7 linked regions of the Homo sapiens genome follow. The protein of the gene in region 7 purifies or fractionates together with the protein of the main gene of each other region. This does not show direct contact. Each region holds a gene or a part of one and is shown on either strand. Other genes may lie near its edges.

Region 1 (3,500 bases), on a different chromosome or scaffold from region 7:
TTTCTCACCTACTACAATGTGAGCCCCATCAGAAAAGGCAGAAAATATGTTCTCCAAAACAAGGGTCAGGAATTTTTACTGTAAAGAGCCAGATAGCAAATATGTCGTACTGTGTAAGTTAGCCTCTGTTGCCACCACTTACCCCTATATCAGCTCTGCCTTGCAGCACTAAAGCAACCCCAGACAAATAAAAGAACAAACACGTCTGTATTCCAATACAATTTTCCTTGCAAAATCAGGCAAAGAGCCAGATGTGGCCCACAGGCTGTAGTTTACCAACCCCTGATCTAGAACAAGCTTGCCATGCAGGATACTGATTTTGAACTAACCAACCATCTCTCTCGGTCTCTAAAGCCACCTTTAATTGACAAAATACTGGCACTCCAAGCGCATCTGTAACAGTAACTTCAAACTATCTTCTATACATCTTTCACCAAAAAATCCACCTGAGATCACTTATATTCCTGAATGACTGTTTGAGGGATATGAAGTGTGCTTATTCTCACAACTAGAAAATATATAATAAACCATGTCAGTTTGATCCTCCACAGAATTGTTTTTGATTGTTGTACTTTCACTTTATTTAAGGACATGATAAACAGCCAAACAAGAACCACTGTTCAATGTACCACATGAATGCCACTGAGCACATCACCTACTACACCTTTCAATGTAACCAATTCAAAGCCCCAAGTGTGAAATGGGGGACATATTAAGGAAAAGAAACTGGTATCTTCTTTATGCATGGTGAAAATGACAGCATAGAGCTGAGGATGATTTCCTTTCACTGTGGCCACCAGGATGCTCACACAAGTTCCAGTCAGACTGGGGTAGAGACTAGTTATGCTACCAGTCCCCATGACCTCTCTTCTCCTGCGGCGTATAGCTCTGCTATGTGTCCAGCCTAAAGTAAGCTAAGAGAGGCCATGTCTGAGTACGGCTAGTAGGATGAGAAGCAATGTGTGCTGGTCTATAAAAACCTCCCACAGGACTGTCCTCATTCTCCACCCACTGCCTGAACCAAGCAGGTTCCCAGTTCCTATAGGAGGCTAAGTCACAAGGTGGAAAAAGGCTGACCACCTGAACAGCCATGTGGACACCTAACCCATGACGACCCCAACATAAGCTTCCACATAGGTGAGAAACAGATGCTTCTTGCTCTGAGTCACTGAAATCTTGCAGTTATTAAAGCAGTCCTCATGTCTAAGACACTGACCACGGAGACTAGAACTTTATTGATAGTACAGGTTTTGATGTATTCATTTCTGGTCTTTATATATTCTTGATTCTCATTCTTTATATTTAGCTTTATTACTGTGAGCACTTCCTATAAGCTAATCCAGACATTCATTTAATGACAGATGAGAGAAAAGTCTCCATTGCTTATGTTCAATAAATCATCATCTCAAATAATAAAAATCTGAATAAAGTACATATTCCACTTAAAACTCTATCTGTAACTTTCATTTACACACAGTTTATCTAAGTTATGTAACTGTTCAAAAAGAGAAAAAATGCTAAGTAAATATTAAAATGCAGGGCAATATTGTCTCAAATGAAATTTGACAATCATCAGAAACAAAATAGCCTAAGAAATAAAACCACAAATTTCTAAACTCCTGTGTGGCAAGAAAAAGTAACCATAATTATAGCTTAATGTAACGCAGCTGTTCTAAACTCTTCGGTGCCTAATCCCTACACAATTATTTCAAATGATGTTCTGAAGTTTTGTAGTTTTCATAATTTTTTTTTGAGGGGTGGGAACTGGACATGTCAGAAATGGAAGAAGTTTTCAATGAATGCTCTGTAACACAATGGACAAACAGCAGAGACGCTATAAAGATTTCAATTATAGCTCAGGCATCAAGTTCATTTTCATTGATAAACTTTGTAACCATTCTAAATTGCAATGCCAACTTTTGAAAAGGAGTAACCTTTTAATAATCTTCCTCCCTGGGATATCTCAAAGAACAATTCACATTCTAGAGAAGCCTTGGGAAACAAATGCTGTTTGCAGCAAGAATTAAAATCTCAAGACAGGTGTTTGGGGAATTAGGGGGTTACTGTGTATTTCTGGGTTTCTGATCAAAAGCCAGGATGATTAACTCTAAACAATATATGACAAATACTACAGAAAACCAAGAATGGAGATACGTTTTAAATCCTACAGGGCTGGTTTTTTTTAAATGTGTTTTTACATTTATATTGAAAACAGACGTGTTCTATATTGGAAAATTATAGTATTTCTGCCAAAGTTAAGATCTTACTTTTGAAGGCATGTAAAGTCAGTCTCTTCCTTCCCATTCTAAGCTGTGCAACAGCCACAACCTCTCTCAGAACAATATAAACATACTTGTAAGTTGCCCCCTCTCTCTTTACCATCTTTCTGGTTAATGGCACCCCTCAACTTGTACTAGAGTTTCTCCCGTGTACCACAGGAAGCAAGTTTTGAAATTCATGAGCCCTTCTATAAACATTAATTCTTTTTTTTTTTTTTCTTTCTGAGACCGAGTCTCACTCTTTTGCCCAGGCTGGAGTACAGTGGTGTGATCTCACCTCACTGCAGCCACCACCTCCCGGTTTCAAGCCGAGATAGCACCACGGCCTACAGTCTGGGCAACAGAGTGAGACCCTGTGTCTACCAAACATTAATTCTAACATTAGGATAGACTATGCCCCAGCAAAGAGCTGCAAAGCCAACTCAGAGCTGAAACCTGCCTAGGTAATATCCTAACACAGGACTATGTAACAAAACAGGCAAAAAAAAAAAAAAAAAAAAAAACCACAACCTTGTCATGTACATATTTTGAGAAGTTGGAAAATAAGTGATGGTAGTAGAGCAACATGGCTCAGACCATACTGTGTAAACTACCCAGTAGTGATCAAGTCCTGCTTATTATATAACCATGAATCAAAACACATAACATTTTCAGTCAATGTAAAAATACTTGTTGAGTATCTACTACGTGCCAAGAATGAACCACTTCATCCATTTAGCTGATAAAATAATGGCCACACTGATTCCAGTTCACAGTTAATCACACCTATACTTTGGTACTGCAATATAATTTCACGGAGCTTCTCAAGAGCACAAAATGGATAACAGCTCTCAATGAGAGGATGCTATGAGAGGAACTAAAATGGAACTGCCGCAGCAAGCTAATAAAATCTTCAGCATGCACTAGAGGAACTTTTAAAAATTCAATTCAGCTTTCAACTGCTAGAAAACAAGCATTCCAAGATCAAAGATCACAAAGGCTGTGAGAGGACAGCCAGTGGGAGAAGGCACCAAGTGTTACCACAGTGAAATAAGTGCAAAACCTAAATGAAGGTCTCTATATGACGACGACGTTCAAGAGGTTATCTGACAAGCTGGAACACACATATGCTATGCACAGATTATATACAAGGCACCACCCTATGTGGTTCCTGCCAACAAGGAGTTTGTGAACTAGTTAGCAAGATAATCTATCCTGTTTTACCTCACTTGAATATAAGCT
Region 2 (3,500 bases), on a different chromosome or scaffold from region 7:
AGATACCTAAAAACAGAATTACTGAGACAAAGGACATGAACATCTTTAAGTCTTGCAAATTGCCAAAATGACAGAAAGATTATACCTCTTCATGCTTCCAGAAGCGCATAACCTTTTCTTTTCTTTTCTTTTCTTTTCTTTTCTTTTCTTGTTTTTGAGACAGAGTCTCGCTCTGTCACCCAGGCTGGAGCGCAGTGGCGCAATCTCGGCTGCCAGGTTCAAGCAATTGTCTTGCCTCGGCCTCCCAAGTAGCTGGGACTATAGGCATGTGACACCGTGCTCGGCTAATTTTTTGTATTTTTAGTAGAGACGGAGTTTCACCATGCTGGCCAGGCTGGTCTCGAACTCCTGACTGCGCATAACATTTTCAATATTGACTTTCTTGTAGAAAAACAGATTTCTTTACTGTACCGATGGATTAATATAGTGGTGTTCCATTGCTTTAATGACTTAAAGCAAAACCCATTGTTTTGGGGTTTCTTATTAGGTTAGGTGTTCTTTATTTGGCTTTTGTCAGTTGATTTTGGTTTATTGAGTTCTAGTCAGTGTCATTTTTTAAGATGGACTTAAACATTCTTCATCACTACTATTTTTATTAAAATTTCTAGAAATAATCAAGTGAGAATGCATTTAATAAGAACATGAGATTTTGCCTAACATAGAATTCCCTCCAGCTTTGATATAGAAAAGCAGTTATATAATTAAGATATATATAATGTGAATTGTTTATGTTGGCAAAACTAATGGCACAAAGAAAAATTTCAAACCCTTAAGCCAATTTTTAAATTTTATTTCAGGTGCTATTCGAGCACATAATGGTAGTCTTCAGCATCTTACTTGGCTTGGCTTACAGTGGAATTCATTGCCTGCTTTACCTGGAATCCGAAAATGGCTAAAACAGCTTTTCCATCGTTTGCCCCATGAAACCTCAAGGCTTGAAACAAATGCGCCTGAATCAATATGTATTTTAGATCTTGAAGTAAGCAAAGATTTTAACAAATTAAATATTCTGAATTTTGTTTAATTTTTTTTTCTAACTTAACTTTTCCTTAAATGAAACAGGTATTTCTCCTTGGAGTAGTATATACCAGCCACTTACAATTAAAGGAGAAATGTAATTCTCACCATAGCTCCTATCAGCCGTTATGCCTGCCCTTTCCTGTGTGTAAACAGCTTTGTACAGAAAGACAAAAATCTTGGTGGGATGCGGTTTGTACTCTGATTCACAGAAAAGCAGTGTAAGTAGTAAAACAAAAATATTGCTTTCACTTAGTGCGTAGGTTTTACCGGGGATTTAATCCTCGTGTGAAGATTTAATTTGTCATGTGACCCATTAACATATATGTATGTAAGCGCTGAACTGTGTATTTAGAAAGCAATTTTAGTAAATTGAACTATTTTTTAGACCTGGAAACTTGGCAAAATTGAGACTTCTAGTTCAGCATGAAATAAACACTCTAAGAGCCCAGGAAAAACATGGCCTTCAACCTGCTCTGCTTGTACATTGGGCAAAATACCTTCAGAAAACGGTGAGTTTTAAAGTATAAGCATTTTTAATGAACATTACCTTAATTTTTTAAAATCATGAACTTTTTATTGAAAGTTTTTTTGTTCTGAAAACAGCAGCTTGGTCATATTATGACAGATGTGTTTTTTATTGCTGCAAAATAGTTAATGTAGTTAAATATAAGCACTTAGAGGAGCAATGCCTGGCACACAGTGAATGTTACATATTAGCTGAGCTGTTACTGTTATTCCTTAATAATTAAGTTCTGATAATTATTCAGCCTGAAAATTAAAAAAAAAATTAGCACAAGGCTTTGTAGGTAAGACCATTATAGATCTTTCTAAATATTTAAGGTGTGTTTTGTGTCACCATTAGGTGTAGATGGTCAGCCTTTTGAACAAACTGACACTACAGAAGAGGCAGGTTTCAGCTATCTAAAAAGGACAACTGTTAAAAAGTAGTTTGGATTGCTACGTTAGAGTGGTATCATTAGAAGCATTTAAAAGTTGAGTGTAGAGGCCGGGTGCGGTGGCTCACACCTGTAATCCCAGCACGTTAGGAGGCCGAGGCGGGCAGATCACAAGGTCAGGAGGTCGAGATCATTCCTGGCTAACACGGTGAAACCCCGTCTCTGCTAAAAATACAAAAAAAAACTCTACTAAAACTACAAAATTAGCCAGACATGGTGGCAGGTGCCTGTAATCCCAGCTACTTGGGAAGCTGAGGCAGGAGAATTGCTTGAACCTGCACGGCAGAGGTTGCAGTGAGTTCACTGGTATTAAGGTGGTTTAGTTATTACAGTATTTGGAAGTTGAACAAATGACTATTGAGGTACCATTTGGTTTTGACTTGAAATTTTAGCCAGTTCTTACAACTTGTAAATGAACTTTAGATCTAATCATGCGTGTTCCTTAAAGTTGTGTGCTTTTAACTTTCTTTTTTAGGGCAGCGGTCTTAATTCTTTTTATGGTCAACTAGAATACATAGGGAGAAGTGTTCATTATTGGAAGAAAGTTTTGCCATTGTTGAAGATAATAAAGAAGAACAGTATTCCTGAACCTATTGATCCTCTGTTTAAACATTTTCATAGTGTAGACATTCAGGTAACAGAGTTCCTTTATGAATTTATTGGAGATGGGAATTTCCAGTTTATAAACAAAGACGTGGAGCTATAAACTGCTTAAATTAATTGCCTTGTTATTTAACGGTAATCTTGTTTTCTAAATTCACTAGCTCTCACAGATAAGATATGACAGAGAAGAGTAATGAGATGTTTGTCTCTTAAGATCATATAAAATCTTTGGAAAATCATTTGGGTTTTATATTCTGAGTATAAACAATTTGACTAAAAACTATTCTATGTGTTTAGGCATCAGAAATTGTTGAATATGAAGAAGACGCACACATAACTTTTGCTATATTGGATGCAGTAAATGGAAATATAGAAGATGCTGTGACTGCTTTTGAATCTATAAAAAGTGTTGTTTCTTATTGGAATCTTGCACTGGTAAGTAGATGCAGTACTTGAGCTAAAAGTTGTATTTATTTATTTATTATTTTTTTTAAAAGACGGGGTTTCTCTGTTGGCCAGGCTAGAGTGCAGTGGCACAATCTTGGCTCACTGCAACCTCTGCTTCCCAGGCTCAAGCGATTCTTGTGCCTCAGCTCCCGAGTTGCTGGGATTACAGGCATGAGCCACCATGCGTGGCCAAGCTGAAAGTTTTTTGTTTTAAAAAGCTAATGATTTCATGAAAGCACTATTTGTATAGATTTTTCACAGGAAGGCAGAAGACATTGAAAATGATGCCCTTTCTCCTGAAGAACAAGAAGAATGCAGAAATTATCTGACAAAGACCAGGGACTACCTAATAAAGATTATAGATGACGGTGATTCAAATCTTTCAGTGGTCAAGAAAGTAAGTAGCAGGTTGTTGTATGTACGTTCTTACTGATAACCCACTGGTCAGTGTTTTTGCGTTGGTCTTATATTTTG
Region 3 (3,500 bases), about 160 Mb from region 7:
CAGTAGTGTACAATGACGTATTAGGCCTTCACATTTACTCACTACTCAGTTATTCACCCAGAACAACTTCCAGTTGTGCCAGCTCCAGCTACACTAAGTGCCCTATTCAGATGTACCATTTTTTATGTTTTATACTGTATTTTTACTGTACCTTTTCAATGTTTAGACACACACCATTGTGTTACAACACTGTGCCTACAGTATTCAGTACAGTAACATGCCACACAGGTTTGTAGCCTAGGACGGTAGACTGTACCATCTAGCCCAGGTGTGTACTGAGCTGCTCCATCTGGGTGTATGTAAGCACACTTTAGGATGTTCACACAACAATGAAATGACCTAATGATGCATTTCTCAGAACCTATCCTCATCAAGAGTCATGTGACTGTACCAACTCTGTTCAAATATCATCTCTGAGGTTTTCTTTAGCCACTCCATCGTTCCCAACTTCCACTTCCACTTGCTTTATCAGTAGTAGTAGTATTTTTTTTTTTTTTTTGAGACAGGGTCTCACTTTGTCACCCAGGCTGGAGTGCAGTTGCACAATCATAGCTCACTGTAGCCTCAAACTCCTGGGCTCAAGTAATTCTACTGCCTCAGCCTCCCAAGTAGTTGGGACCACAGGCACAAGCCACTACACTAGGCCAATTTTTTAACATTACTGTAGAGACGGGGTCTTACTATGTTGCCCAGGCCAGTGTTATCCTGGCCTCAAACGATCCTCCTGCCTCAGCCTCCCAAAGCTCTGGAATTACAGAGGTGAGTCACTGTGCCCAGCCTCCACCTGCTTTATTATTTCTCTATGTGTCTTGTTTTTCTTCCTCTACCACTAGAACATAAACCCCCATTTGTGCAGAAACTTTTCTTTGTGTGTACTATAACCCCAACTCTCAGTGCAGTGTCTGGCACACAGAAGGCACTTAGGACATGTTTGTTAAATGATGGAATTCTCCTCAGTGCTGTGTCCTCCTCCCCATCATTGATTCTCCAAGAAGGACAAGGGCATACAGTATAATCAGCTCCACTCTGGAACACTTGCTTGAAAATAAAAATTTGTTCCAACATTGTCAATACATCAAGGAACAATTTGACCAAAGGCAAATTCCCATTTGCTTATGTGGGATTTCATAGGCAAGAAATACCAGGTGAATGCAGAAAACTGCACCCACTGACTGGAGCCACCAGGATCCCATGAAACACAACTCAGACACCTACCAGCTCAGTCCATTCATACCTGGGCCACACATTGTGCCCCTCACCTGCTATGACCCAAAGGCTCCAACCCCACTGCACTGCACCCTCCCCAGGCCCACCGTGCTCTCCAATGCTCTGTATTCCCCTCTGCCTTGCTTGCCTTTTTCTCCTCTGTTCTACCTCATTTTCTTCCTCTTACACACAGAGGGGCAGGTGTACCTTGGGAGCACAGGCACCTACTCCCAACTATAGAATGTAAATATTTTTCAAGGTAAAGTGCCATGCTTACTATAGTATTTATGCATTTCTTACTGATTTAACATATAAAATTATGCTACTGTTTTATTAGGTTCCTGTTTTTAACATGTCACTGGCAAAATTTTTTAGTGTTGTCCCTCTAACTCCATTTTCCCCATAATCTCTCTGGGTTATTTATTTATTTATTTATTTATTTATTTTAACCAATTCTGCAGAGTGCAGTGACTGTTGGTAATGCATGTGTGGGATTACAGCAGAACTAACTGTACTTGGAAAGATCTACCTGATAGGCCCCAAACTGATTTAAATTCTTATCAAATTGAACTATGGGAAACCATCATTATTATATAAAATGGCATTTCTGTCATTCAACTTGATGAAACCACGTGATGCACAATCCTACACATTTTCATTTTTACACGTAAGAGCCACACGGTGACTAGGTACTAAGCTGAACTGTTAAGTGTTAATAAAGCTTATTGATAAACTAGAGTTAATGCCTCATTAGTATAAGGACTAATTCAGTATTCTCCTGAGATGTCTGCTGGCTTTCCAGCAACACTGCAAAGGCTGGTTGGCACACAACGGGTGGCTGGAAACAACGCACCCCAGAAGGGCACCTGTCATTGTGGCCACCAGTGTGATTTTGAGTTGCTATTTTTACCTCTGATTTTCAATTTAGTTTTCTGTGATTTTGTTAACATTATGGTATGCACTTTGCAACAACAATCTTTTAGACTTTAAAATATGTATGTACTGCATTTCCAATACAATCCATATACACTGCTACTGCTAAAGCAGACATTTATATATTATCTAACTAATTTGCTCTTATAAACACTTCTATGGTGATGAGATGCCTATGAGTTTGCGATTATTTTTAAGTTTACAGGATATCATTTTATAATACCAAAACATGTTATAAGCTCATTTCTCTTATAAAGAAAAATGATTTCTTAAATGTTGCCAGTAACAAATTCATTATTAGATTCCTCTAATTCTTTGTCACTAATTTGATTTTCACCACATAATAAGAACAAGTGAGACAAGTGTGCCAAGGGTCTCCTGCCCCAAAGATACTTTCGTATTTCAGAGTCAGTGCCTCCAATGCTGGCTTCCTCAGAGATGTGTCCTAGGCCCTTTTATCTGAAACTCTACAGAGATAACTGCAGGCATTCCCATGACTTAGGCTTCCATGCCCAACCTGTCTCTAGCTCAGCCCTTTCCCCTGGTATCCAGACGTGCATGTCTGACTACTGGCCATCCGCTGGTGCACATCCCACCACCAGTCATCTGGTACCTCCAAAATGGAGCCACATTCTCCCTTGAATCTGCCCTCTTCCCACGTTCATGAGCTTGCTGAATGGTACTACACAGTCAGACGCCTGGGCCCTTCCCCACCATATCCATATCCAATCAGTCCAATAGTGCCATCACTTCACTACCAAGCAGCTTCCCATTTCCAGTTCCTAATTCAACCATCATTTTGAAGAGCACAACCTAAGAGGTTAGCCTTAAATATGTCCCTTTGACATATTTCTCACTTGTAGTCAGAGGAATATTTCCAAAAGGCAAACCATATTTTTCTCCTTACCTCTATTTTGTCCACTAGTTCTCTCTCCTTCTCTTTTGTTCTCTTCCTCCCTTGCCTACAGCTCGCTCCCTGCTTCAAGCACCCACCGTTCTCAAGATAAAGTCTGAATTCCTTAAAATGGTAAAGACTCGTGTAGCCTAGCCCCCAGCCTCATCTTCTGCCTTCCTGCTGAACTTCAAGTTCAAACACAACAAACCTTCTCTAGTCTTCAGAGTGACCTTCTTTGTTAGATGGGTCCTTTCCCCCAACATCCCTCTTTGACTGGTTAACTTCTGTTTATCTTTTACATCTTAGCGTAGCCCACCAGCAGGTAGATTTGAGTATAAAGGGTTTTGTTTTCTTCTTTCAAATAAACATTGGTCGCTAAGGATTCACTGAGATAACTATGTTTCTTTTGGGGACATAATGACTTTAGAACATATTTCATATTCACAGTCAAAAATCACAACAAAAC
Region 4 (3,500 bases), on a different chromosome or scaffold from region 7:
ATAAAGACTCTATGAAAATATAAAGCCCAAAGTCAGTGACAACAGAAGTCCACATATAAATGGTGTTTAAAAATAGAAAGTCTTCTAAAGCTTCTCATGAGATGTCAATGAATAGTCATAATCTTAAGACCTTATAAATCAAGGTTAAGTTATACACAACTATGCTGATTTACATACCTTCTACAATGTCCAACTGACATACATAATTTACAGACACCCATAGGAATTCATAATGCCCTATCATATCATCTCTCAATACTGGATGTTTATTGTTTTATAGTTTTACTACTTTAAGTACCAAGAAGCCTTTTCAGAGGAAGAGTTCCATCTCTTCCCTTGATCCCCCAAAGTATAGGTAACAAAATATAAAATTAAACAAGATTTATGTTTGATAAACTAACATATAAAATTACCATTGCAATTTTCATAGTGACTGCTTATAAACATAACAGTCATCATAAAGCCTATAAAGTATATACTTAGTTTTATAAAAGAAATGCAGATTGTCTCAAGGTAAAAAATACAGTGCTGGCTGCTAAAAAGCACTTTGTCGCAATAAGATGTGCAATAATGAGCAAAACTTCAGAAAACATGAATATGTTCCCCAACTTTTAATATTAGTTAAGCAAGAATTGCACTGCAGCAGCAGGATGCTTTTTAGTGGCTGACACTATAAAGCTAACGTTAAGAAAGAAAAAAGGCAGAAAGTGTGAGCAACAAATGGTGTAACCAAATTATTGCAAATGGAGATTAGCAATAAGAAGTGAGGAAGGTGACCGTCCACTCCATTCTGATAAGACACCATCTTTAAATATTAAGTTTTTTGCAGGAAGTGGAACACCCATGTCAGCACACGATGACTGTGAAAGCAAACTTGAAAAACTGGGCTCTGTGTGAATATCCAATATTGAAGCACCTTCCTAAAAGATCAAGAAACAAGAGAAATGATATTCAACACTTTACCAAAACCACTTAATATAACTAATGAGAAAGAGAGACCTTGATTACCTGAGAAGTGTTTATGGATTGCAAAGCAGTACAGGAGATGCAAAGATCTACACTGTGAGCCCAAAGCAATCAATGACAGGTATTAATATGTGCAAAAATGACTAACAACGTTAAACTGTAGTAAGTCCTTTTAAATAGAAATAAGAGGCTACGAGACTGTGGGAAAAGCAAAAGTTCATTTTTACAAGACCTAACCTAACCCCAAAGTATTACCTAACAGAAGAAAAATCTCTAAAAAAAAAAAAAAACTTACAAAGGCCAGGTGCAGTGGCTTGTGCGCCTGTAATCCCAGCACTCTGGGAGGCTGAGGCGGGTGAATCACTTGAGATCAGGAGTTCAAAACGAGCCTGGCCAACATGGTGAAACCTCTTCCTACTAAAAATACAAAAAAATTAGCTGGGTGTGGTGGCACATGCCTGTGATACCAGTTACTCAAGAGGCTGAGGCAGGAGAATGGCTTGAACCCAGGAGGCAAAGGTTGCAGTGAGCCGAGATCGTGCCACTGCACTCCAGCCTGGGCAACACAGCCAGACTCCATCTCGGGGAAAAAACAAAACAAACAAACAAAAAAAACCTTACAAAACACTAAGCACCAGAATAATCCACCTACTCCACGCTTCTCAGATTCATATATTCCGCACAGACCTCCCCCCAGGACTCCATGCTCAAACATCCACCTATCTGACACTTCATTTCAGATGCTTCCCCATGCACTCTATACTCAGTATGCCCATCATTGAACTCTCAAATTTTCCCTCCCCTCTTCCTCCCCAGTCTTCTCTATTTCACACATCCAGCTAATCAAAAAACATAAGAATCATTCATGATCCCTCCCCTCCCTTCCCTCCACAGCCCTAATCTTTTCCTCACATTTAATTCATCATCAAGTTTTATCAACCTATCTCCAAAATATATCCCAAATTAGTTTAATTTATTAATTCACTATGGCCAAGGCCTTCACTGCCACAACAGACAGGCCAGTATTGACAGAATTTTGAAATTTTTCCATTTATTGCATCCTTATAAAATTTCCATTTTTGCCTATTTTTATAAAATAGTCCTTCAGAAATAACCTCTCTCCCCTGTTTAAAAGTCTTTAATCATTTCTCTTTGCACTCAACGTAAAATACTAGTTCTCTAACATATGCCAGAAGGCCCTGCACACCGTGCTCCGGCCCTCTTCTTCAACCTTACCTCTTGCTTCTACCCCTCTTTCATGAAGTTTCTGCCACACTGGGCTTCATTTGTTTCTTTGTTCACTGGACATTTCCCAGACACAGGAAGTACAGACCTAAGCTCTGCCGGAATATTCTTTTCCAACTTTTTGGCTTCAGCTTATATTATCCTGCACCTATTGAAATTAGGTCTACCTGCAGATTTCATCATAGTTGGCTTCTTCAAAGTACTTTTTAAAATCTTTTAGAACTTATATATCTTAATATTTATCTGATTATTGTCTCCCACAACATTCTCTAAGTTCCATTAGTATCTTACACATCACTGTTTCCACAGCACTCAGCAAAGAATCTGGCATAGGTCAGGGTCAAGCATTTACCAACTGAATGAATGAAGTAAAACTCCAAAATATTGATTTCATAACGTTGAATTAGATATTCTGAACAGAAATATTCTATTTTAAAAGTTTACCTATAAATCAAGTCTAGAATATTCTTTCTTTCCTTGGGGATGGGGGAAAAACAAGAAGTCCAGAGCACTGGCCTTCGCTGCCACAACAGACAGCCCATCCCAGCAGTGGAGAATCGCTTTAGTTATTGGGAAGTGCGCTATAACCAAAAACTAACACCTAGCATGGCACACAGCCCATAAAAGACACTTAACACATTTCTGTTGAATAAAGCACTGGCACAGAACAAAGAGATCAAGCTTTGGTCTCCGAAGACCTGGCGAGTGAAATGTGCAAGTCCATTAACTTCTTGAATCTCAATGTCTTCATTTGTACAATAAAATTAATGTTTATTTCATATCTTGCTGCTGTGGTGACTCAAAAACAAACACAGAAGTGTTGTGCATACTTAAAGCTCAGTACAAGTACCATTTGGACTTTTTGGTTTTTGTTACCTGGAATGAGTGAACAAAGTTAAGGACTTGCAGAGAGAGTTTTCTACTGGAATGTAAGAGGTTTTGAAGGCTGAAAAAAAAAAAGGCGAGAAACAGTTTAAAACAAACATAAAGGCAAGAATGAGTTTCTCATAAGAGTTTAATTTTAGCAATTTAAATGCATCTATATATCCTGGCCAATCACAAAACATCTTAAAAAACAATTTCAGTGTTTCTCATCAATGAAATTTTTGCTTGTTTTAATAATAGGGAGTAGTCATGCATTAAAAGTCCATTTTGAAATAAAATACATCGTGTAACTAAAATCAAAGTTATTGTTTTAAAAAAATTCAACTACTATAAACATAAATGTTAAATGAAAGAAAACTTTTCAAATGAAGATTTAGGCACTCTGAGGAATGACAACTATGACA
Region 5 (4,239 bases), on a different chromosome or scaffold from region 7:
GGCCAGGAGTTTGAGACAAGTCTGGGCAACATAGAGACTCCATCTCTAAAAAAAAATTTTTAGCGTTTTTCCCTCTCAGGCCCTGCATTCCAAAATGACAAAGAAAAGAAGAAACAAGAGTCATGCCAAAAAGGGTAATAGCTATGCGCAGCTTATTCTCGCCCAAGGACCGGACCATTAAGAAGTTTGTCCTTTGGGCCGGGCGCAGTGGCTCACGCCTGTAATCCCAGCACTTTGGGAGGCCCAGGTGGGCAGGTCACTTGAGGTGAGGAGCTCAAGACCAGCCTAGCCAAGAGGGCGAAACCTTGTCTCCACAAAAAATACAAAAATTAGCCGGGCATGCTGGGGCACTCCAGTAATCCCAGCTACTCGGGGGGCTGAGGCCAGATAATTGTTTCAGCCTGGGAGGCAGAGGTTGCAGTGAGCCGAGATCACGCCACTGAACTCCAGCCTAGGCGACAGAGCGAGACCCCATCTCAAAAAATAAAATAAAAATAAAGGTCCTGCCCTCAAAAACATTGTCCTGTGTCTGCGGCATGACTTTCAGACAACATGGTTTTTCAACGTCCCACCAGGATTTATGTAGGTGAAAACCTGTTTCCGATAATCTGAATCTCAAATCCATTCTGTTTTACATATAAAAACAGTTTGGCGGAGGGCATGGTTTTGATAGACCCTGAATTTTCGAGGAATGCATCAACCATGAAAACAGAACACAGATCGAACTTTTACTGGGAACTTTACTAAGTTCACTGAAAAAAAAAATCATATTACCCATAACAACATTTGTAGCTTTACATTCACGATGGATATATATGCGTGTGTACGTCTGTACTTAGGTTTTGTTTGTTTGTTTGTTTTGAGATGGAGTCTCGCTCTGTCGCCCAGGCTGGAGTGCAGTGGTGTGATCTCGGCTCACTGCAACCTCGACCTCCCAGCTTCGAGCGATTCTCCTGCCTCAGCCTCCCGGGTAGCTGGGACTACAGGCGCCCGCCACCACGCCTGGCTAATTTTTGTATGTTTAGTAGAGACGGGGTTTCACCATATCGGACAGGTTGGTCTCAAACTCCTGACCTTGTGATCTGCCCGCCTCGGCCTCCCAGAGTGCTGCGATTACAGGTGTGAGCCACCGCGCCCAGCCTGAATATTGTTTTTCTTATCCATACTTCACTGTAAGCAGATGGAAGCATCTGTCTGCTTCATTATGTCTGCCAGTGTTGAGTACCTGAGTATTTTCATATTGAAATATAGCTTTAATGATACATTACTTCTCTCTTCCTTCTTTACATAGCGGTTAATCATATTGAGCTTCTGAAATTGTGCGCGTGGGCAGATTAGCCATTTTTGGGTTCCCTCTTACCCCCCGGACTAAGCCGGGACGGAAAAAAAATGTGAAGGGGGCGTTCCCGATCGATTTGGCCCCGCCCCATAGTGTGCCCAGAGCCTTCTGCCACACTTAACATGGCGGCGGCGGCGCCCTGCCGAGGCGCCTGAGCGGGTCGCGAGCGTGGTGTTACACTCCAGTCATGGCGGCCCGACAGGCCGTGGGCAGCGGGGCTCAGGAGACATGCGGTCTGGATCGGATTTTGGAGGCATTGAAGCTGCTGCTGAGCCCGGGAGGTGAGAGGACGCATCTCCGCGCCGGGCTGGACCCGGGACTCTCAGGGCCGCCCGGCTTCCGGGGCTGCCCTGCCTTCCGCAGCGTGCGCCCCTTAGGCCCGCCTCGGGACCCTCCGCCCGCTGCTGGGGGCTTTGAGCATTGTCTATGCCCGTCCTCATTACGTTCTTGAGGAAACTGAGGCTCAAGGAGGGCGCGGGATCCGTTGACTGCTGATATTAGCCAACATCTCTTGAGCATTTGCCTTGTGCTGGGCTCTGTCAGGCGGGGCCGTTATTTCATTCAGTGCTTACTGCAGCGCTCTTGGGAGGGGGATATGGACCCAGCTCCAGAGAGGGTAGGGCGCCCGCGACGTAGAAATGTGAGGTCCTAGCCGCGTGAGGGCGCAGGGGCCAGCATGGACCCTTGAGATTTGTACGAAATGCCAAGAAGTCCAGACATCGGAAGCAGTGACGTTTGAAATGGGTTTGGGGAGAGTATTTAGGGGTTACCAGGCGCTTTTAATCTTTGTGGTGCGTGGACAGTTTCTTCCCAGTCTAAAATCTGAAGGGATATTGGGAGTGGTTGAAGCTGCTACTCCTTTTGCGACTGAGGACACCCAAGGCTCACTGAAGAAATTAAGTAACCTGTCCAAGATCACGTGGTCAAATTAGGGGCAGAACACGGACCTAGGCCCGAGATCTACTGAACCCCCTTCTCAGAATCAGACAAATTGTTCAGTATAGGGGCTCTGATGTTATCTGGAGCTTTTGGAAAGGACGTGGAAGATAGAGCTCTGCTTATCACTGGGGTGTATATTTGGGGGAAGGGATGGGAAGGGATCTGTAGAATTAGCAAGGGCACATGAAAGGCCAAAGGGGATCACCTCCCAGTCTCAGATTTTATACTTAAAACTGCAAAAACTTCTGCAAACATTACACCACACCAGCGGGAAGTGAACACAAGTTACTAATATTAGTAAATGAGTGCCTACTAAGTATCAGTCCCCATAGTAGGCTGTTGACATACACATCATTTAATCCTCATTACGATCCCCTGGGATCGGTACTACTTGTATTCAATTTTTACGGATGAAGGACCAAGGTTCAGGTACATTGGAAATTGCCCAATGTCAGACTAGTAAGTGGCAGAATTTGAATTTAGGTTATTTCCACTAAAAGTATGGTAAATATGCTACATTGTCTCAATTAAGAGTCAGACTGCAAAATAGAATTTTAAGTTGCTAATCGAGAGGTCACTTGTCTTCTAACGGCAACTCTTTTTTTTTTTTTTTTTTGAGATGAGGTCTCACTCTGTTGCCCAGGCTGGAGTGCAGTGGCACAATCTCGGCTCACTGCAACCTCTGCCTCCCAGGTTCAAGCGATTCTCCTGCTTCAGCCTCCCGAGTAGCTGGGATTACAGGTGCACACCACCATGCCCAGCTAATTTTTGTCTTTTTAGTAGAGACGGAGTTTTGCCATGTTGGCCAGGCTGGTCTCGAACTCCTGACCTCAAGTGATCTGCCTGCCTTGGCCTCCCAAAGTGCTGGGATTACAGGCCTGAGCCACTACACCTGGCCTGCAACTCTCTATTGTATGACTGAGAACACGTTTAAATAAGCAAAAATCCTGAAAGTAATCATCTGTTATGAAACATGTATATTATGCTTCATTTATAGAAGACTCTCTAATCTCTATGAGTATGTGGTGGAGTACACATATATGTACTCATTTAATTTACAGAAATTCAAGCATTCCTATTTGAAGAGGAATTAGTTCGTGAAATTATATTATTTTGTACATGTAGTCTTATATATTATATGAATCTGTCTACTATTTTATCATATTAGCTGCTTAGGGAATTTAAAAATATCTGTAGTGGCTGGGCGAGGTGGGCCATACCTGTAATCCCAGCACTTTGGGAGGCTGAGGCAGGATCCCAGGAGTTTGAGACCAGACTGGGCAACATAGTGATACTCTGTGTCTACAAAAAACTAAAAAATTGGCCAGGCATGGTACTACACACCTGTGGTCCCAGCTACTGGGGAGGCTGAGATGGGAGGATTGCTTGAGCCTGAGAGGTCCAAGTCTAGGCTGTGGTGAACCATGATTACACTAGTGTGCTCCGGCCTTGGGTGACAGAGTAAGACCCTATTTTGTTTTTTGTTTTTTGTTTTTTTTTTGAGACAGAGTTTCACTCCATCACCCAGGCTGGAGTGCAGTGGCATGATCTTGACACACCGGAACCCCCACCTCCCGGGTTCGAGCAATTCTCATGCCTCAGCCTCCCTTGTAGCTGGGACTATAGGCACCCACCACCATGCCTGGCTAATTTTTGTACTTTTATTATTTTTTGAGATGGAATTTCGCTCTTGTTGCCCAGGCTGGAGTGCAGTGGCGCAATCTCAGCTCACTGCAACCTCCACCTCCCAGGTTCAAGTGATTCTTCTACCTCAGCCTCCCGAGTAGCTGGGATTACAGGCATGCGCCACATGCCCGGCTAATTTTTTGTACTTTTAATAGAGACGGCGTTTCACCATGTTGGCCAGGCGAGTCTCGAACTCCTGACCTCAGGTGATCTGCCTGCCTTGACCTCCCAGAGTACTAGGATTAGGATTACAGGCGCGAGCCACCATGCCCAAC
Region 6 (3,500 bases), on a different chromosome or scaffold from region 7:
ACTTCCTATCACCCAGGGGGCTTTGTTCTTTGCTGCGTGATGTCCAGTGTTTTGAAAAGTGTTTTTCATAGGTTTTATCCAGTTTTTTTTTATTGTTTGAGGCAAGAGGGTAAATCAGCTTGCTGTTATTCTATCTAGGGTGGAACAGTGACTTGCTTCCAATGAACAGAATGTGGAGGAAGTGACAACATGTTACTTTTGAGACTAAGACATAAAAGGTATTTTGGCTTCTTCATTGCTCTCTCTCTCTTTTGGATCAGTCGTTCTGGGAGAAGCCCGCTGCCACAAATTAAGGACATTCAAGCAGCCCTTTGGAGAGATCCAAGTGGTCAGGAAACAAGAATTTCTGCCAACAGCTAAGTGAATACGCCATCTTGCAACTGGATCCTCCAGCCTCAATCAAGCTTTCAGATGACTGACATCTTGGCTACAATCTCATGAGGGACCCCAAGCCTGATCTACCTAAGCCACTTATGAATTCCTAACTCATAGTAACTATGAGATGATGTTTATTAATTTAGACCACTACATTTTGGGATAATTTGTTACACAGCAATAAACAATGAATAGAGGTACCAAATTCTGCTCAAACTGTAGAAAGGATCAGTTGAATTTCTTAAATAATTTTATCCTTTTCCCATCCCCAACCCAGCCTAAGTAACAATGCACAGACAAAATCCCCATACTTAGCACTGGAGCATTTATACTCAAAACTTTCCCTGTGTGACTTTTGTCAAGAAATAAACCATGAGTTGTTATAAGCCTAAGGTTCTGTCAAAGCAACCAGGGTATGTTCTAACTCAAGAAGCATGAAGTAATATATATTATTTTCATTCTTTATAGTATCAACAGAGATGTTATCTTTCCACTTCCAATGAGGGAAACTAAGGCATTAATAAAAAAATAGATTTCAGTCATATATTACATTCATAATTCAGCAATGGATTTATGAAATTTCCTCTTTTGGAAATCTTAAATAAGACTTATATCCATTTGATAACGTATATTAGCAGCAAGGCTACCTCAAGGAAGGAGATGCATAGAACCTCTGGAAGTCTTTCTCTTCACTATGATTCTGAATTTTATACAAGGGAGAAAGGGAAGATTGAAATTTTGAGGAGGAGCATAGATAATTGTTTATGTATGAAGGAGCTTTGTAAAGACACTGCCCCTGGCCCAGCCATTGCCTTCCATAACCCTAGGGGGCAGTTTCACCTGAGTCTATGTGGAATGTAGAAAAAATATTTTCATGTTTTTGCATAGTTAGGGCTTTCTGAGCAAAGAAAACTGGTACCTGGGTTAAAGGGCAAGTCTTGGAAGTTAAAAGATGATTGAATAGTCAGAGACCTCAGAAGAGATTTAGAGGCTTCCCTCCTTGTGTGTTTACATTTCAAAGGGCATAAAAGGAGTCAGTTGTTTACATTTCAAACATCTGTCAATGCCAAGGTTTCTCTCCCTCTCTCTGGAGTGGAGCTTGTAGCCTATTTATACTCCCAGATTAATAATTTTGGATTTTCTCTTCAACAGTACACACCCCTATATATGCAGGATGCCCTCTGGCTCTCATGGTGTTACTCGGGGGCTACTGTGTGTGGAGAAGTAGTGCGGTTATTGTTATAAGTATTAATAACTGTGATCTCTATTCCAGAAACCTTACCACTGTATTTGCTTTCAGGGTAAAATGAATAAATATAGATATACTTACCACAAAAGGGAGGATGCACTCATGCTGATCTTGTACCATGTATAAACTGAACAGGGACATGCGGCTGGGGCCCATCAAGCTGCAGGCTAGAGAGAAGAAGTTCTGCAGAGCCTCACAGAGGTTGGTGCAGATGTCAGCCCAGGACGGTAGAGCAATGTGCACAATGAGAAGCCGTGGAGGTTGCTGGTCAATCTGAGTGTGAGTAGAGGGCCCTTTACCAGTAGTTCGCCCAGGATGCATGGCAGCAAAACCAGAGGGGGAACTGTAGCCACCAGCTGGATATTCTTTACACCTATAGGGAAGGAAAGAGAAACCACTGGTTTTCAAACTGAATTATGTGTGCTCTGTTGAAATATAAAATACAAGTCGAGGGAAACAAATCCAGAAAGGAGTCAGATTGGGTACTAAAGCTTGTCCAGGCCATCCTATTTTTTTTTTTTTTTTGAGACAGAGTCTCGGTATGTCACCAGGCTGGAGCGCAGTGGTGCGATCTTGGCTCACTGCAACCTCTGTCTCCCAGGTTCAAGCGATTCTCCTGCTTCAGCTTCCCGAGTAGCTAGGACTACAGGTGCACACCACCACGCCCAGCTAATTTTTGTATTTTTAGAGATGGGGTTTCACCATGTTGGCCAGGATGGTCTTGATCTCTTGACCTCACGATCCGCCCGCCTTGGCCTCCCAAAGTGCTGGAATTACAGGCGTGAGCCACCGTACCTGGCCCAGGCCATCCTATTTTAACAGCTCCCAAGAGATCTAGATGTTTGCCTATCATGTAAGCCTGAGAATGCTTAGAGATGCTGAGTGGAACTAATCAAAAGTTACACCAAAAAACTCAAGCTTCTGTCTCAAAGTAAGCTATCTGCCCTCATAAACTTTGTTTCTTTATTGGCATTTATTGCACTCTATTACAATTTGTTTCTATGACTGCCTCTCCCACTATATTGTAAGCTTCCCAAGGGTAGAGAACCTGTCTTGTTGATATTATTCATCAATGCCTAGCATATGTGTGTTTAGTACCTAACGAATAATTCTTAAAAATGAAAATATGACTACATTTCTCCTTGGTTAAAATTCTTTGGTTGTCTGAATCTCTTATAAGGTAAAATTTAAACTGTCTTTAAGACCTGTCATTACTTAATTGTTAGCCTCATTAGAAATTGTTCTTCGCCTCAAGATTTTCACGGAAACAATACCAAATATATTCACTTTAGTGCATTTGCTCATGCTGCTTCTCTGCCTCCAATACTCCTGCCTTCTTTCTCTACTGGCTACTTATACTTATCCCCAGGACTCAGATTAGGAAGTGAGAACAATTGAGAACAAAGAACCAATATAAGGAATGAGAAAGGGACATCATCACAAATGCTCAAACGTGAAAAGGGTTATAGGAGGACATAATGAATAGCTTTATGCTAATAAGTTTGATAAAGTGGACAAATTCCTAGAAAAATGTATCTAACCAATACTAAAGAAATTTTAGAAACCTAAATAGTCTATAATCATTAAGGAAATGTAATTGGTAATCAAATATCTTCCCACAAGTAAGAGGGTCAGATGATTTCACTGATGAGCTCCATCAAACATGCAAAGACCAAGAATTTCAATCTTTTTTTTTTTTTTTGTAGAGATGGGGTCTTGCCATGTTGCCCAAGATGGTCTCAAACTCCTGGGCTCAAGTGATCCACCTGCCTCGGCCTCCTGAAGTGCTGGGATTACAGGTGTGAGCCACCGCGCCCAGCCAAGAATTTCAATCTTAAACAAATTATTTTAAGAACAGAAGAACATATATAACAGG
Region 7 (3,500 bases):
CTGTGGGACAAAGACATGAAGCTTTTCTGGGTCATTCTGATGGTCCCCAGGGCTCCGCATCCCTCCCAGGGCAGGAAGCATGTCAGGGTCATCCTGCCCACTCCCCCACCCCAGAAACAGTCCAGCTTCATCTGTTTGAGCTCCAGTCCTCCCCGTTTTTCTCATTAGGTCTCTGCCTTGGTTATTGAGGTATAATTTAGATAGTAAAATTCATCCTTTTTAGTGTAAGGTTCTGAGTCTTGACACACGCATACATCACGTGGCCATCACCATAATCATATAGAGGGCGGCTCTCTACCCCTCTACCGGCCACCAAACCTTTCTCCTTAATCCACTCCTCCCCATCGTGGGTGTTGGAAGCAGCTGTTCTTTATCATTCACTCTGCCTGTCTGGCCATCTTTTGGCGGGAGGGTTGTCTAAATTCCCTAGGGTACTGTTACAGGGAGCAGCCACTGTTGAGATTTGGGGGTTGATAGGGGTCCCCTGGCTGGGGTGGGGTGCCATCCCCTGGGTGGCATGTTTCTTTGTCCTGGCCTGCTTTCTGGGTACAGCCTACACTCCACAGGCTTCCCCAGCCCCTGAGGTCCTACAGTGGGGTCTGGGGACAATGTGGCCTGCCTTGGCCCTGGCCCTAAAACACAGCCGGGGACCCCGTGCCTCTCAGGCTTGGCCTCTGCAGCCTCAGCTCTCCTCACCTCCCCCACGCCGTACACGGTGCGTCTCACCTGTTATGGCCTCTGACCTGTTGGTGCCAGGCCTGTGGCAGCTCAGAGACAGCACCAAGTCCCACAAGGGTCACTCCAGGGCTTTCCACCCCCTCTGCTTAGTGGACAAACTGCTGTTTTCCCCAGCCCCACACTTCAGAAGGTGCACGGGGGAGCCCTCGGGAAAAGGACATGCACTCGGGAAGGTTCAAAAGCAGGTGGAACTCAGAGGGTATGCCAGGTTGCATTTGTGGGGTCAGCTCAGCCTGGTTTTTAATTTTTTTTTAGAGATGGGGTCTTGCTTTGTGACCCAGGCTCAAGCGCAGTGGTGCGATCATAGCTCCCTGCAGCCTTGAACTCCTGGGCTCCTCTGCCTCAGCCTCCCAAGTAGCTGGGACCGCAGACACGTGCCATCACACCTGGCTAATTATTTTGATTGTTGTAGAGATGGGGTCCTGCCATCTTGCCCAGAGAGTAGCATGCTTTGGATCACTGTACTGGTTTCCTGGGACTGCCGTAACAAAGTACCACAAACTGAGTGGCTTAGGGACATTTCTTGTCTCACATCGCTGGAGCCTGCAGTTCTTAACCAAGGTTTTGGCAGGGCCACGTGGTCTCAGAAGGCTCCGTGGAGGGTGCTTCCTGGCTGCCTCCAGCTTCTGGAAGTTGCTGGCAATGCCCAGCCCTCTGTGGCTTCCAGATGCACAACTCCAACCTCAGCCTTTGACTTCCCGTGAGCTTTACGCCATGTGCCTCTGCGTCTCTTCTAAGACTCCAGTCACTGGGTCTCCTTCATGACCTCATCTTAACTGGATTACATCTGCACAGATCCTGTTTCCAAACAATGGCAGGTTCCGGGGGTTAGGACTTCCACCTGTCTTTTTGGGGGACATAGCCTGATCCACAACAATCATCACTGTCAATCATCATCACCTCATTAGCATCATTGTCAATCAATTACCCAGCTGCTCAGGAGGCCGAGGCAGGAAGATTGCTTGAGCCCAGGAGGTGGAGACTGCAGCGTGAGCTGTGATTGTACTCCAGCCTGGGTGACAGAATGGGATGTTATCTCAAAAACAAACACAGGGCCAGCTGTGGTGGGTCATGCCTGTAATCCCAGCACTTTGGGAGACCGAGGCAGACGGATCACGAGGGTAGGAGTTTGAGACCAGCTTGACTAACATGGTGAAATCTCCTTTCTACTAAAAATACAAAAATTAGCTGGGTGTGATGGCACGTGCCTGTAATCCCTGCTACTCAGGAAGCTGAGGCAGGAGAATGGCTTGAACCTGGGAGGCGGAGGTTACAGTGAACTGAGATAGATAGCGCCACTACACTGCAGCCTGGGCAACAAAGCAACACTCCATCTCAAAAAAAAAAAACAAAAAAACACACACACACAGAACAACCTCCTTGTCAATCTGTTCCTTTTAATGGTAGAACTCCTTGGAAAACACTTCTCCGGTGTGCCTCTGTGCCGCAACCCCTCTTCTCTACACTAACTCTGAGACCCTCTCCGGGTTTCCTGGGCCCGTGGTGGCTGCTCTGCCCCCTTCCCTCCCTGGGCTTCTGGTTTCCCGGCTTTGATGCCATCGTGCCCAGGTTCAGCCCCTGGGCCTCTCCTGTATCTGTCCACACTCATGCTCCGGGGAACCATGCTAACAAGTTACACAACTTGCTAGCTTGGATGACCCACTGTGATCTCACAGTGCTGTGGGTCAGGAGCGCCCCCACTGCCCAGGCTAAAGTCAAGGGTTGGCTCCAGGAAACTCCAGGGAGAATCCATTTCCTGCCCTTTCCAGCTTCTAGAGGCACCCGTATCCTTGGCTAATGGTCCTTCCTCCGAGCCAGCCCTGCAGTGCCCTCAGGCCTCACGTTCTCACCCAGACCCCCTGCTGCCTCTAACGAGGGCTTTTTTTTTTTTTTTTTTTTTTTGAGATGGAGTCTGGCTCTGTTGCCCAGGCTAGAGGGCAGTGGCGTGATGTCAGCTCATTGCCACCTCTACCTCCTGGGTTCAAGCAATTCTCCCGTCTCAGACTCCTGAGTAGTTGGGATTACAGGCACGCACCACCAGGCCCGGCTCATTTTGTATTTTTAGTAGAGATGGGGTTTTGTCATGTTGGCCAGGCTGGTCTCGAACTCCTGACCTCAGGTGATCTGCCCATCTTGGCCTCCCGAGTTGCTGGCATCACAGGTGTGAGCCACTGTGCCCGGCCTTACCGAGGGTTCTTGTGATGGCATCAGGCTCAGCTGGCTGCTGCAGAAAAACGCCTCCATCCCAAGATCTTTAATCATCTGCAGCCCCTTTGGCTGTGGGGACTCACAGGTCCCAGGGCTGAGACGTGGACTCTCTGGGGCTGTCGCTCAGCTGCTGAGGTGGCTTCTCCTTCCTGGGGCTGCAAGCGCCAGTCTTGTTGGCCCGGCTGCCTCTCCAGCGTCCCCACTGGGCTGTCCATGGCCTTTGACTTACCATGTCCTGATCTCCAAATGGCCCTGGCTGTCACTCCACATCATGCAGTACTGTGTGCCCTCAGGTCACACCAAACGCTGGTGGCCCACACCTGACTTGGGAAGGGGCAGGGCCCAGGCAGAGGAAGAGGATGACGGGGTGCCAGCCTGAGCCTGGAAGATGGGGGTCCCCGGCTGCCTCCTGACCCCATCCTCTGGCCCTCTCCCCGCAGACGGCATCCTGTCCTTCTTGAAGAACAACAAGCCAGGGGACGCGCTGTGTGTGCTGGGCCTCACACTGTCTGACCTGTACCCCCATGAGGCCTGGAGCTTCACCTTCAGCAAGT

Evidence for each region.
Region 1: the proteins of AMZ1 (region 7) and WASF3 purify together in Homo sapiens (affinity purification with mass spectrometry; one large-scale study listed by BioGRID and IntAct). This does not show direct contact.
Region 2: the proteins of AMZ1 (region 7) and RGPD8 purify together in Homo sapiens (affinity purification with mass spectrometry; one large-scale study listed by BioGRID and IntAct). This does not show direct contact.
Region 3: the proteins of AMZ1 (region 7) and NCAPG2 purify together in Homo sapiens (affinity purification with mass spectrometry; one large-scale study listed by BioGRID and IntAct). This does not show direct contact.
Region 4: the proteins of AMZ1 (region 7) and FAM91A1 purify together in Homo sapiens (affinity purification with mass spectrometry; one large-scale study listed by BioGRID and IntAct). This does not show direct contact.
Region 5: the proteins of AMZ1 (region 7) and TANGO6 purify together in Homo sapiens (affinity purification with mass spectrometry; one large-scale study listed by BioGRID and IntAct). This does not show direct contact.
Region 6: the proteins of AMZ1 (region 7) and M1AP purify together in Homo sapiens (affinity purification with mass spectrometry; one large-scale study listed by BioGRID and IntAct). This does not show direct contact.

The regions. Positions count from the first base shown.
Region 1 is NC_000013.11:26,564,183-26,567,682, reverse strand, and holds part of WASF3 (actin-binding protein WASF3), read right to left. Parts: intron 1-3,500. UniProt on the Homo sapiens protein: Downstream effector molecules involved in the transmission of signals from tyrosine kinase receptors and small GTPases to the actin cytoskeleton. Plays a role in the regulation of cell morphology and cytoskeletal organization.
Region 2 is NC_000002.12:112,399,146-112,402,645, reverse strand, and holds part of RGPD8 (RANBP2-like and GRIP domain-containing protein 8), read left to right. Parts: intron 1-797; coding exon 798-979; intron 980-1,062; coding exon 1,063-1,238; intron 1,239-1,405; coding exon 1,406-1,529; intron 1,530-2,451; coding exon 2,452-2,610; intron 2,611-2,876; coding exon 2,877-3,014; intron 3,015-3,276; coding exon 3,277-3,423; intron 3,424-3,500.
Region 3 is NC_000007.14:158,698,305-158,701,804, forward strand, and holds part of NCAPG2 (condensin-2 complex subunit G2), read right to left. Parts: intron 1-3,500. UniProt on the Homo sapiens protein: Regulatory subunit of the condensin-2 complex, a complex which establishes mitotic chromosome architecture and is involved in physical rigidity of the chromatid axis.
Region 4 is NC_000008.11:123,809,939-123,813,438, reverse strand, and holds part of FAM91A1 (protein FAM91A1), read right to left. Parts: intron 3,158-3,500; coding exon 3,088-3,157; coding exon of another isoform or gene 3,049-3,087; exon of another isoform or gene 2,778-3,048; intron 921-2,777; coding exon 735-920; 3' UTR 1-734. UniProt on the Homo sapiens protein: As component of the WDR11 complex acts together with TBC1D23 to facilitate the golgin-mediated capture of vesicles generated using AP-1.
Region 5 is NC_000016.10:68,842,092-68,846,330, forward strand, and holds the start of TANGO6 (transport and Golgi organization protein 6 homolog), read left to right. Parts: upstream 1-1,439; 5' UTR 1,440-1,526; coding exon 1,527-1,620; intron 1,621-4,239.
Region 6 is NC_000002.12:74,638,331-74,641,830, forward strand, and holds part of M1AP (meiosis 1 arrest protein), read right to left. Parts: intron 1,998-3,500; coding exon of another isoform or gene 1,946-1,997; coding exon 1,706-1,945; intron 1-1,705. UniProt on the Homo sapiens protein: Required for meiosis I progression during spermatogenesis.
Region 7 is NC_000007.14:2,705,202-2,708,701, forward strand, and holds part of AMZ1 (archaemetzincin-1), read left to right. Parts: intron 1-3,386; coding exon 3,387-3,500. UniProt on the Homo sapiens protein: Probable zinc metalloprotease.